Linked DNA regions of Homo sapiens. The protein of the gene in region 3 interacts with the protein of the main gene of each other region in a pairwise test. Each region holds a gene or a part of one and is shown on either strand. Other genes may lie near its edges. The genes, in order: C1QTNF2, FAM217B and TCEANC.

Evidence for each region.
Region 1: the proteins of TCEANC (region 3) and C1QTNF2 interact in binary tests that used the Homo sapiens proteins (3 or more experiments, as listed by UniProt).
Region 2: the proteins of TCEANC (region 3) and FAM217B interact in binary tests that used the Homo sapiens proteins (3 or more experiments, as listed by UniProt).

The regions. Positions count from the first base shown.
Region 1 is NC_000005.10:160,350,385-160,353,724, forward strand, and holds part of C1QTNF2 (complement C1q tumor necrosis factor-related protein 2 isoform 1 precursor), read right to left. Parts: intron 1-3,340. UniProt on the Homo sapiens protein: Involved in the regulation of lipid metabolism in adipose tissue and liver.
Region 2 is NC_000020.11:59,938,889-59,942,642, reverse strand, and holds the start of FAM217B (protein FAM217B), read right to left. Parts: upstream 2,255-3,754; 5' UTR 2,108-2,254; intron 446-2,107; 5' UTR 334-445; intron 217-333; 5' UTR 131-216; intron 1-130. Other genes in the region: PPP1R3D (protein phosphatase 1 regulatory subunit 3D), read left to right, coding at 2,712-3,611.
Region 3 is NC_000023.11:13,659,487-13,663,140, reverse strand, and holds part of TCEANC (transcription elongation factor A N-terminal and central domain-containing protein), read right to left. Parts: intron 3,490-3,654; 5' UTR 3,455-3,489; coding exon of another isoform or gene 3,373-3,454; intron 2,111-3,372; 5' UTR 2,019-2,110; intron 641-2,018; coding exon of another isoform or gene 633-640; coding exon 1-632.

The DNA.
Region 1 (3,340 bases), on a different chromosome or scaffold from region 3:
AGCAGGTGGCCAGACCCTTTGTGTTAAAAGGAAGGCAGGCCGGGCAAGGTGGCTCGCGTCTATAATCCCAGCACTTTGGGAAGCTGGGACTGGAGGATTGCTTGAGGCCAGGAGTTTGAGACCAGCCTGGGCAATGTAGCCAGACAGTCTCTACAAAAAATACAAAAATTAGTCAGGCATGGTGGCATATGCCTTTAGCCCCATCTACTTGGGAGGCTGAGGTGACAGGATCCCTTGAGCCCACGAGTTCCAGGTTACAGTGAGCTATGATTGTGTCACTGCATTCCAGCCTGGGCAACAGAGTAAGACCTTGTCTCTAAAAAATAAAAATTAGAAAAACAAAAGGAATGGAATCCACAATGCCAATTTTTTTTTTTTTTTTTTGAGACGGAATCTTGCTCTGTCGCCCAGGCTGGAGCACAGTGGCGCGATCTCCGCTCACTGCAAGCTCCGCCTCCCAGGTTCACACCATTCTTCTGCCTCAGCCTCCTGAGTAGCTGGGACTACAGGCACCTGCCACCACGCCCGGCTAATTTTTTGTATATTTAGTAGAGATGGGGTTTCACCGTGTTAGCCAGGATGGTCTTAAACTCCTGACCTCGTGATCTGCCCACCTCGGCCTCCCAAAGTGCTGGGATTACAGGCGTGAGCCACCACACCTGGCCCACAGTGCTAAATATTTCTACACCCATTTAAACGCATAGAAGAGTGCTTGGCCTATAGCAAACATTCCTAAATACTAGCTGGCATTCCCTGCAGAACAATTCCCCCAGTTGTGTTTTCCTTTAGAAGGCTTTTTGATGTTTCATACTCCAATGTTTCATAAAATGCACATTTCTCTCAATCCAACATTTTTGGCTACTGATTGCATAAAATCAATTTAGTTTATGTCCCCTCAACTCAATACAACATTTTAAGCAAAACCTATATGGATAATGACTTGAGTTCACTCGACACAAGGTTGTTAGAACCATATGAACTGGGTCAAGGAAGTAAAGTTTTAGGCATTTTACATCCTAACAAGTTACTTTGTTTCTTATACATTTGTATGTAGGCATTTCACTGTGTTTTAGAGTTTTGAGTTAATCTGTAATGCATCTGAATTTTTCCTATTTTACATAATTCGGAAATAGGTTTCCAAATTGCATTTTGTTACTGAACACTTGATTTTCAGGAACAGAGTGCTTATGTTAAGTGCCTGACAATGCCTGGTATTATTAAATACATATGTAAATATATAGAAAAAGGCCAGGAAAGATACATACCTAACCAATTAATAGTGGTTACCTCTGGAGGGTGAGGGAAGGATGAGAAGGGGTAGTAAGTAAGGAGGACTTTTGCTTTATGTGTATTGTTTGAATATATTACAATGAGACTGTATTTGTATATTACTCATATAATTAAAAATAAACAAAAAGAATGGGAAAAAATAAAACTCAGAAAAGTCACAAAGCTATTTCTTGAAAAAATGAAAATAAACAAAAGGTGGGAAAAGGGGCCAAGAGAAGAGGAATAGAGACAGAATCTTTTTTTTTTTTTTTTTAAAGATAGAGTCTCACGCTGTTACGCAGGCTGGAGTGCAGTGGCGCGATCATAGCTCACTGTAACCTCAAACTCTTGGGCTTGAGTAATCTTCCTGCCTCAGCCTCCTGAGTAGCTGGGACTTCAGGCACACACCACCACACTTAGTTAATTTTAAAATTTTTTGTAGAAATGGTGTCTCCCTATGTTGCCCAGTCTGGTCTCAAACTCCTGGCCTCCCAGTACTCTTGCCTTGGCCTCCCAAACTGCTGAAATTACAGGCATGAGCCACCACGCAGCCTCCAAGTCATTTTGACTTGGGGTTTTTGGCGGGAGACAAATAGATAAAAAAGCTTACCAGGAGGTCCTACCATGTATTATATAATGTGCTTTCCTCTTCTTTACCTTTTTTGAGAGACTTTGGGAAAAGCTGACTTTACTCTTGAAAGACTTTTCTGGAGGTGAATTTGTATGTGTGGTGATGGCGGGTGGTTGGATGTTATCCTGAATTGGCCCCAGGGTGACAAGCTTTGTTTGAGTTACATGCGCTGGGACTCTCCCAACACTGCCTTCCTTGGTGTGGTGGCTTCCTTCTCTGCAGAGACTCAACACACAGCAGAACAGATGGCCAAAGGCAGCCCCAGTACATGGTAGAACTTCCTGGTAAGCTTTATCTATTTGGGGAAGTCAACAGCAGAGACTCTGTCCCTCAGGATCCATAGGCAAATCTCAGGGAAAACTCTAGCTGGCCTGCTTGGAGCACATGTCCAGACCTGAGTCTGCCGCCGTGGTCAGGAAATTGGATATCATGATACCAGTGCCCAGCACGCTGGAAGACCCACCCCAGTTAAAGCTATGATAGTTACTTTTATACTAATCTCCTGGGGAGGAGGTACCTTTGAAGGAATTAGTTTGGTGTGGTAGGAAAAGACCTGGATTTGGAGTCAGCTATCTGCATGCTATGTGAGCTCAATAAGTCAATTACAGGGTGCCTAACATTTATTGTATGTCTATGCTGAGACTGGTCCTTCATACATTGTTTTATTTCATCTTTACCACAACCTTGTGAGACAGGTGCTATTATTATCCATATTTTAGAGATGAGGAAACCATGGTTTGGAGAGAAGTTAAGTAGTTTGTCAAAATCAGTGTCCAGGTTTGTTTCCAAAGTTCACGTTCTTGCGAGGATGACATTTTGCTATCAACTGAATCACTCTGACTCTCAGTATCCTCATCTGTAACATGGGGAAAATAAGAATCCCTCCGGCACACGATATGGATGGTCAGATGGGCAACATGTTCAAAAGTGCTTTGTCAATATTAAAATGCCATACAAATAAAAATTATTATATTTCTCTACTGCTTAAAATGTAGGCTTAGGGATGCTGCTGACACTGAAAAGTGCTTGGTTGCTGGGGTGAAAGTTTGGAGATATAAGGAATGTCACAACGGAAAGGTCTGTAGAGTATATCCATTCTGCTCGCCGTCTGCCTGGCATCCCTTCCTTTGGGGAGTTGCCCTTCACCATTTCATTTCATACGGTCCTAGCGGGGCTGTCAGTCACAATGACTGACTGCCCCCACCACCCACTCACACACACGCAGGGGTGGGTCCATGAGCCTGCCCTGCAAATGGAGGCACCTCACCTCCTTGGTCAAGGGAATTGGTCCAGGATACGCATGTGGCCAAGGAGAATTGGCTGTTCTGAGATTTGCTCTGTGGATGAAGCCAGGAAGATGTGGGCCGGAGCCCAGCAGTGCTATTTCAGAACTTCTAGCCTTTGTGAGGATACAACAAACACAGAGAGAAGCAGAGCCGT
Region 2 (3,754 bases), on a different chromosome or scaffold from region 3:
CTAGAAAAAAATTATAAATGTATATTTCTTATCTATAGACATACTTTTTTCCCCACTCCACATATTCAATCTGGACAACAGAGATAATGAGTCTTTTGCAAGATAAAGCAATTATACTAAAACTATTTACCTGCTTTTCTGATGAGATTCATTCACCCTATTCCTCTTCTTGAAAAAATCACGTGGCTGATCATCATCTCGGGTTTGATGGACTGTCTAAAAACAGGGATGCAGTAATAAACACTGTGAACATGTACACAAGAAACAAGCAAGCAAACAAACAAAAATCCCAGAATAAATCTAAGTCAGATTTTTCTTCTAAGTTTACATTACCTTTCCTGTAGTGCTCAAAATATTCTTGCTCAATCTGCTGGAAGATGATGACAGCTGGGGAGGTGACTTCTTTATTCCTCTTATATTTGGAAAGGTCTCCTCACCACCGGAACTAGAAGCAACAGAATACTGTCAGTAACTATTGATTGCAAATGGTCCTACCACCAGTATCGGGTTGGTTTTTCACTTGTTTTTTAATACTTGTATAATATTGAAATATTAAGGCTGTGATCATATAGTGGTTTGCACTCTAGGTTATGAAATACTGGGGAAGGGAGACATTGTCTTATGCTTACAGCTTTGTCTTTTCTGCTTATTACAGTAGATATTAGAGACAGGATCACAGGATCACACTACTATAAATACTGTGAATGGATTCCATCTCTCTCTCTCTCTCCCTGTTCACACACAGGTATAATCTTCCTTGGAAATAATATGTTGAAGAAATCTGGAAGGCTAAATAAGGTCAGGTCTTATTACAGCGTTCAATCATTGCATTGCCCAATCATTCATTCATGCAACAAATAATTACAGGAGTACCCAGAAAAATGGCAATGATTATGCACGTCCCTGTTCAGAAGGAGCTTAAACTCTAGGAGGAACGTTCCCATTCAATTTTTCGGCCTTCTCTATCACATCAATCCATTATAAGACTTTCCATATATTCATACATATTACATATTATATATCATCTCTTTATGAAGCATTGTTGACCTATACCACATATTGCTGTTATTCCCCTCTCATTTTGAGTGGCCTATTAAAAGTGCACTGAATGGAAATTGGATACTTCTCTTTCCCGTATCACCTGTCTCTGTAAAATAAAAGAGATGATTATAGAAGATTTTTATTTTCTTCCTGAAACTTTCCTGTATTTTTCCCACATTAATCATGTAAGCCTTTTTAGTTAGCTTACATCCAATGATAAATAAAATCATTCTCTCACATTTCATGAATTATACCACAATCAACAGCCTTGACTCATTTTAGATGCAACGAATGTTCTTGAATCAACCCCCTTTCATTAGTCTGGTTTTCTTTCTGCTTTGTCCCTCTGGACAATAAAAAGGAACCTTCTTAATGGAATGGCTGGCCCCAAACTGCTCTCTGGAAAGTGCACTTGCATCTTTTCTACTTCATTTCACCTGGTATGCTTTACACCAAAGGCTGTGGGGTTTTGTGCTCAAAGCTACCGGGTGAGAGACACGAATGCCTGCAGGGTTCTAAATAGGCAGAAAACAAGCTCCAGGCCTTGCTGGTGTTTCTGGCTTGCTTGGAAACAAAGCTAAAAGTCGGAGATTCTGGCTACAAATATGCTCCCCAAGCGCCAGAGGCTGATTAAGGGCAGCTGCAGAAGTCATCAGCGGGTAATAACTCTTGTTCCCCTGTCTTCCTCTCTGGCGCGGAGTCCAGGAAGACAACAGCAGCACCTCCCCTCCCCACCCTCAAGGGAATCTGCTGGCCATTCGGTGCGGCAAAGCATTCTGGGTGATGTGGACATGACGCTGCTCCTCTACGCAGTGAGGCTCCCTCGGTCTGACCAAGGGTCCAGGTTGCAGTGAACCTGTCCAAAGTGTGGGCTGGCCTCGATGTTTAAAATTAGCCTGAGACCAGCTCCTGGCAAGGCCGGTTTTTGCACCACCGCTCCCCCCATCCACAACCCAGAAATCTAAGGACACGCAGCATGCATTTTCCTTGTCCTCCGTTTGTGCAGACAAAGTCTATGATCGATAGGCGCGCAATCCAGGCAGACGTAAACAGAAATTGATCAGACCTGTTTCGCGACTGCAGCGGACACGTGACGAGGCTGCCAGCCTTCCTTCCTCTCCGGCGCCCGCGCGGGGACGCCCGGCTGCGGCGCGCTGCGGCAGGGGAGCTGGAGGCGGAGGCGCGCAGCTCCGCTGAGCTCCCTGGCTGAGCTGAGGCCGGCGGGGGCCCGCCTGCAGGCGGCGTCACGAGGGGCGGGGCGGAGGCTCGCTAGGAAGTTGCACCCGGTCAAGTTGCAGCCTTGTAAGTAACGCCGCGGACCGGGAAAGTGGGAGGGGCCGCTCCCGGAACGCAGCCTTCTTGTAAGAACCTCCAAGGAAGCAAGAAGAAAAAAGAGGCGCTACCCTGCGCTCCCGGGAGGCCTCTGAAAGCTTCCACTAGAGAAAAACTCCCCACTCTTACAATTTCTTTAACCGCAAGAAGCGGAGGACCTGGACAAGGACTCGAGGAGCAAGGTGGCGAACCAAGGGTAGGGCGCACCGGGCCCGAGAGGTCCCCCGCAGGTTGCAGATACGGTGGACTCTCTGCGGCTTCTGAGCACGGAGGGAGCTGTCGCGGGGTCGGGAGGTCGTCTCTCATCCCTGCCTCATCTTCCGACGGCCGGCGGGGCCATGTCCAGAGGCCCGAGCTCCGCGGTCCTGCCTAGCGCCCTGGGATCCCGGAAGCTCGGCCCCCGGAGCCTCAGCTGCCTGTCGGACCTGGACGGCGGCGTGGCCCTGGAGCCGCGGGCCTGTAGGCCCCCTGGGAGCCCGGGCCGCGCGCCGCCGCCAACGCCAGCGCCGTCGGGCTGCGACCCCCGCCTGCGGCCCATCATCCTGCGGCGGGCGCGCTCACTGCCCAGCTCCCCCGAGCGCCGCCAGAAGGCCGCGGGCGCGCCGGGCGCTGCGTGTCGGCCGGGCTGCAGCCAGAAGCTCCGCGTGCGCTTCGCCGACGCCCTGGGCTTGGAGCTGGCACAGGTCAAGGTGTTCAACGCGGGAGACGACCCGTCCGTGCCGCTGCACGTGCTGTCGCGGCTCGCAATCAACTCGGACCTGTGCTGCAGCAGCCAGGACCTGGAGTTCACCCTGCATTGCCTGGTGCCCGATTTCCCGCCGCCCGTCGAGGCCGCCGACTTTGGCGAGCGCCTGCAGCGGCAGCTCGTGTGCCTGGAGCGTGTCACTTGCTCGGACCTTGGCATCAGCGGTACGGTGCGCGTGTGCAACGTGGCCTTCGAGAAGCAGGTGGCTGTGCGCTACACTTTCTCGGGCTGGCGCAGTACCCACGAGGCGGTGGCGCGGTGGCGCGGGCCCGCAGGCCCCGAGGGCACGGAGGACGTTTTCACCTTCGGCTTTCCAGTACCGCCCTTCCTGCTGGAGCTCGGCTCCCGCGTGCACTTCGCGGTGCGCTACCAAGTGGCGGGTGCCGAGTACTGGGACAACAACGACCACCGAGACTACAGCCTCACATGTCGCAACCACGCGCTGCACATGCCTCGCGGGGAGTGCGAAGAGAGCTGGATCCACTTCATCTGAGCCGCGCGGGGACCGGCCACCTGGAGCCTCCACACCTAAGCTGCGCCTCCTGTCATTTCCCTGCTGGGCTCTCACATCTATCTGGTTGTTCTTCACCACCCTCCAAGTCCTCTGACCTAATTTTCTGCTGCAAGGTCCCCTGG
Region 3 (3,654 bases):
GTAAAAACATGCTCTTCAATTTCTCTTGCAAAGTTTTGCCACAAATCAGCTTTGGGTTGATCTGTGGAAGAACTAGTTAAAGCTGCGTAAAGAAGCTCTATGCATTTAGTTCTCATGGGTGTTGTGGGATCCAGCAACTCACTCGATCTCTTGCCAGTGGATTCAGGGTCACCATCCCCAAAATGCTCTTCCTTAGGTTTCAATTGAATGGCTCTATTTTCAGGCACAATCATTTCACTGAGTTTTGCAACGTCTTGGGAAGACAGAGAATTCGAGCTGCAGATGCCCAGTGTCTCATTCTGACTTGGGTCATGAGAAGGTCCTGAATTTTCTTCTTTATTACCCCTCACAGGAAATAATTTAGGGCTGTTCCTCGCTTTGGAGTGAGTCTGCTTATAAACAGCTTTCCACTTTGATAGCAAACACTTGGCTTTCTTTTTCAAAGCCACAGAGGGGCAGTTTTTGAGGACTCTGTACACAGCTCTGACCACATCTGTCTCCTGGAGATGCTCCTTAGTCACATAAATTGTTTCTAGCTCAGTAAGGTGGTTGCCAAGATCCTCAAAATTCCTTTTGGACATCAGTTGCTCAATAAGAGAAGCTCTGGCAGCTATCTGGTTCTTGTCAGACATCTTTACAGCTGCAAAGAAAAAAGAGGTTTCAGTTTTCTTAAGTTTGCCGTTGCTAGTCGCAGCTTCTGGATACTAAAATAGCACTTTCTGTCAGTTACCTAGGCAATGTTTTCCGAAAGAGTCATGTAATACAAATGTATGCGACACGCTAGAAAATGGAATCTTTAAGGTGACGGTATGGTTTACTCTCAAGAGTTTAATTCCTACGAGTGAAAAACAAACAAACAGCATTGCAGAGCCTCTACATAACATCTGCTTAAGAGGCTTGCCGGAGGATCTGCTATAGCTTTTCCACCTCCAATTTTACAAATCAATGATCTTTCTAGATTAGTCAATCCATTTGGGCGGAATCCGGTGGTCATGTTGGAGGTGAAATCATGCCGGTGTCAGCATCAATATGGCAATGCTGAACAGTGCTAGACAATTTTTCCCCAGAGTCAGCTATATAACTGAACTACTTGCTCATTTCATAATCTTTAAAGTGGTACTCTTCTGAAAATAAAAGAGAAACAAGACAGAAAGGGTTTGCTAATGTCTCAAGCAATCTAAGGAAAATGTGAGACAGCACAGGTTGAAAAGCAGCTAGAGATACGTCTGCGGGTCCCAAAAGCCAACAGGCTACACTGTGCTGCCTTAGGAGTCTTCTGAACAAGGGAAAGGTTCAGACTCAATGATCCAGATGATTTATGACTTTAGACTAACTGGTTCTTACATTTTGGTTTTGTTAATTTTTAAAAAATTTTTAAGTGTAAAGAGTTGCTCAATGATTATGTCTGTGTGAATTTCATCCTAGGCAGGCAAATGTTTACTTTTATCTATGCAGTCTATTTTTTCCCTCCACATAATGTACATAATCTTGTCTATATAATACCCTTGGATCTATATTTATCTGTCTGGTCTAAATGTGAACATAAGCATCTTGATGGCAGGGACTGTGTCTTTTCAAAAATCCATGGGCTCTGTTTTATAGCACTTGATATTAAATAATCACCACCGAACATACACAGGCTAAGAACACTGAAGTGTTTAGAGAGAGAATTCACGCAGTCTTCCCAGACACCATATGACAAGTGACATAAAACATAATGACCTTTTAGTAATTCTACTTCCATAAATTTACTTTAAGGAAATGAGAGATGTGGAGACTGCATATGTAAGAATTTTCTTCTAAGGAGAAATTAGAAGGCCCTCAAATGGTTAAATGGAGAATGGTTAAAAATATGGCACACTCCTAGGATACAGTAATATAACCATTTAAAAATCATGTATTTAGATAATATTTAACGACATGGAAAAATGGTCATAAAGTTAGGTGAAAAACAATCAAGATGTAAAACTATATAAAAGACTAAACAGTTAACATATGGGCCGGGCATGGTGACTCACCCTGTAATCCCAGCACTTTGGGAGGCCGAGGCAGGCAGATCACGAGGTCAGGAGATCGAGACCATCCTGGCTAACATGGTGAAACCCCATCTCTACTAAAAATACAAAAAATTAGCCGGGTGTGGTGGCGGGCACCTGTAGTCCTAGCTACTTGGGAGGCTGAAGCAGGAGAATGGCATGAACCTGGAAGGCGGAGTTTGCAGTGAGCCAAGATCGTGCCACTGCACTCCAGCCTGGGCAACACAGCAAGACTCTGTCTAAAAAAAAATAATAATAAATAAATGAATAAACCAGTTATCATATGACCCAGCAGATCCAAGAGAAATGAAAACATATGTCCACACAAAAACTTGTATACAAATGTTCATAGCAGTATTATTCACAATAGCCAAAAATGGGAAATAATCGAAATGTCCATCAACTGATGAATGGATAAATAAAATGTGATTTATCCACACAACAGAATATTATTCTGCCATGAAAAGGAATGAAGTATTGATACAGTTACAACATGGATGAACCTTGAAAACATTATGCTGAGCAGAAGCAGCCAGACAGAAAAGTCCACATATTGTATGATTTTATTTACATGAAATGTCCAAAACAGGCAAATCTATAGAGACAGAAAATAGATCAGTTGTTGACTAGGTAGGGTAGGGCAGAAGGGCAGTGGGGTGAAGGAGGAGGAGCAGCTGATAAAGTTCAGGGATTTTCTTGGGAGGTGGTGGCACACATAAATCTTCTCAAGATTTATTTGTGGTGATGGGTTATACAACTGAGTATACTAAAAAACACTGAATTGTACACTTTAGGTGAACTGTATGGTGCGTGAATTACATCTGAATAAAGGTGTTATTTAAAAATAGAATTTGATCCAAATTTTATTTAAGAATTACATGTGAAAAGACTGAAAAGAGATACACAAAATTTTAAAGAGGGGCATTTTCTGAATGGTAAGATTTTAGGTAATTTTCATTTGTTATTTTCCTCTTCTGTATTTTCTGTGATGAGCATGTATTGCTTTCATAATCAGAAAAGTTATTGGTCTAACGCAATTTCATGATAAACTATATGCACTTAAGATATACCTACTGAAAAATGGTATGAGCAATGAATCAATCACCTTCTACCCACCTCCCCTCTGGAACGAGAATGTACATAACACTACTGAACTGTATACTTAAAAAGGCTTAAGACAGGCTGGGCGTGGTGGCTCACACCTGCAATCCCAGCACTTTGGGAGGCCAAGGTGGGTGGATCATGAGGTCAAGAGATCGAGTCTATCCTGGCCAACATGGTGAAACCTTGTCTCCACCAAAAATACAAAAAGTTAGCTGGATGTAGTGGCGCATACCTGTAGTCCCAGCTACTCGGAAGGCCGAGGCAGGAGAATTGCTTGAACCCGGGAGGCAGAGTTTGCGGTGAGCCGAGATCATGCCACTGCACTCCAACCTGGCGACAGAGCGAGACTCTGTCAAAAAAAAAAAAAAAAAAGGGCTTAACACAGTAAATTTTATGTTTTGTATATTTTATCACAATTAAAATTTTTTAAAGAAATATGAAGAAAAGGTCAATAAAAGAACATATAAAATGAAGAGCAAAGTGCTTTTTGGTTGTTTATACATAAATACATTAA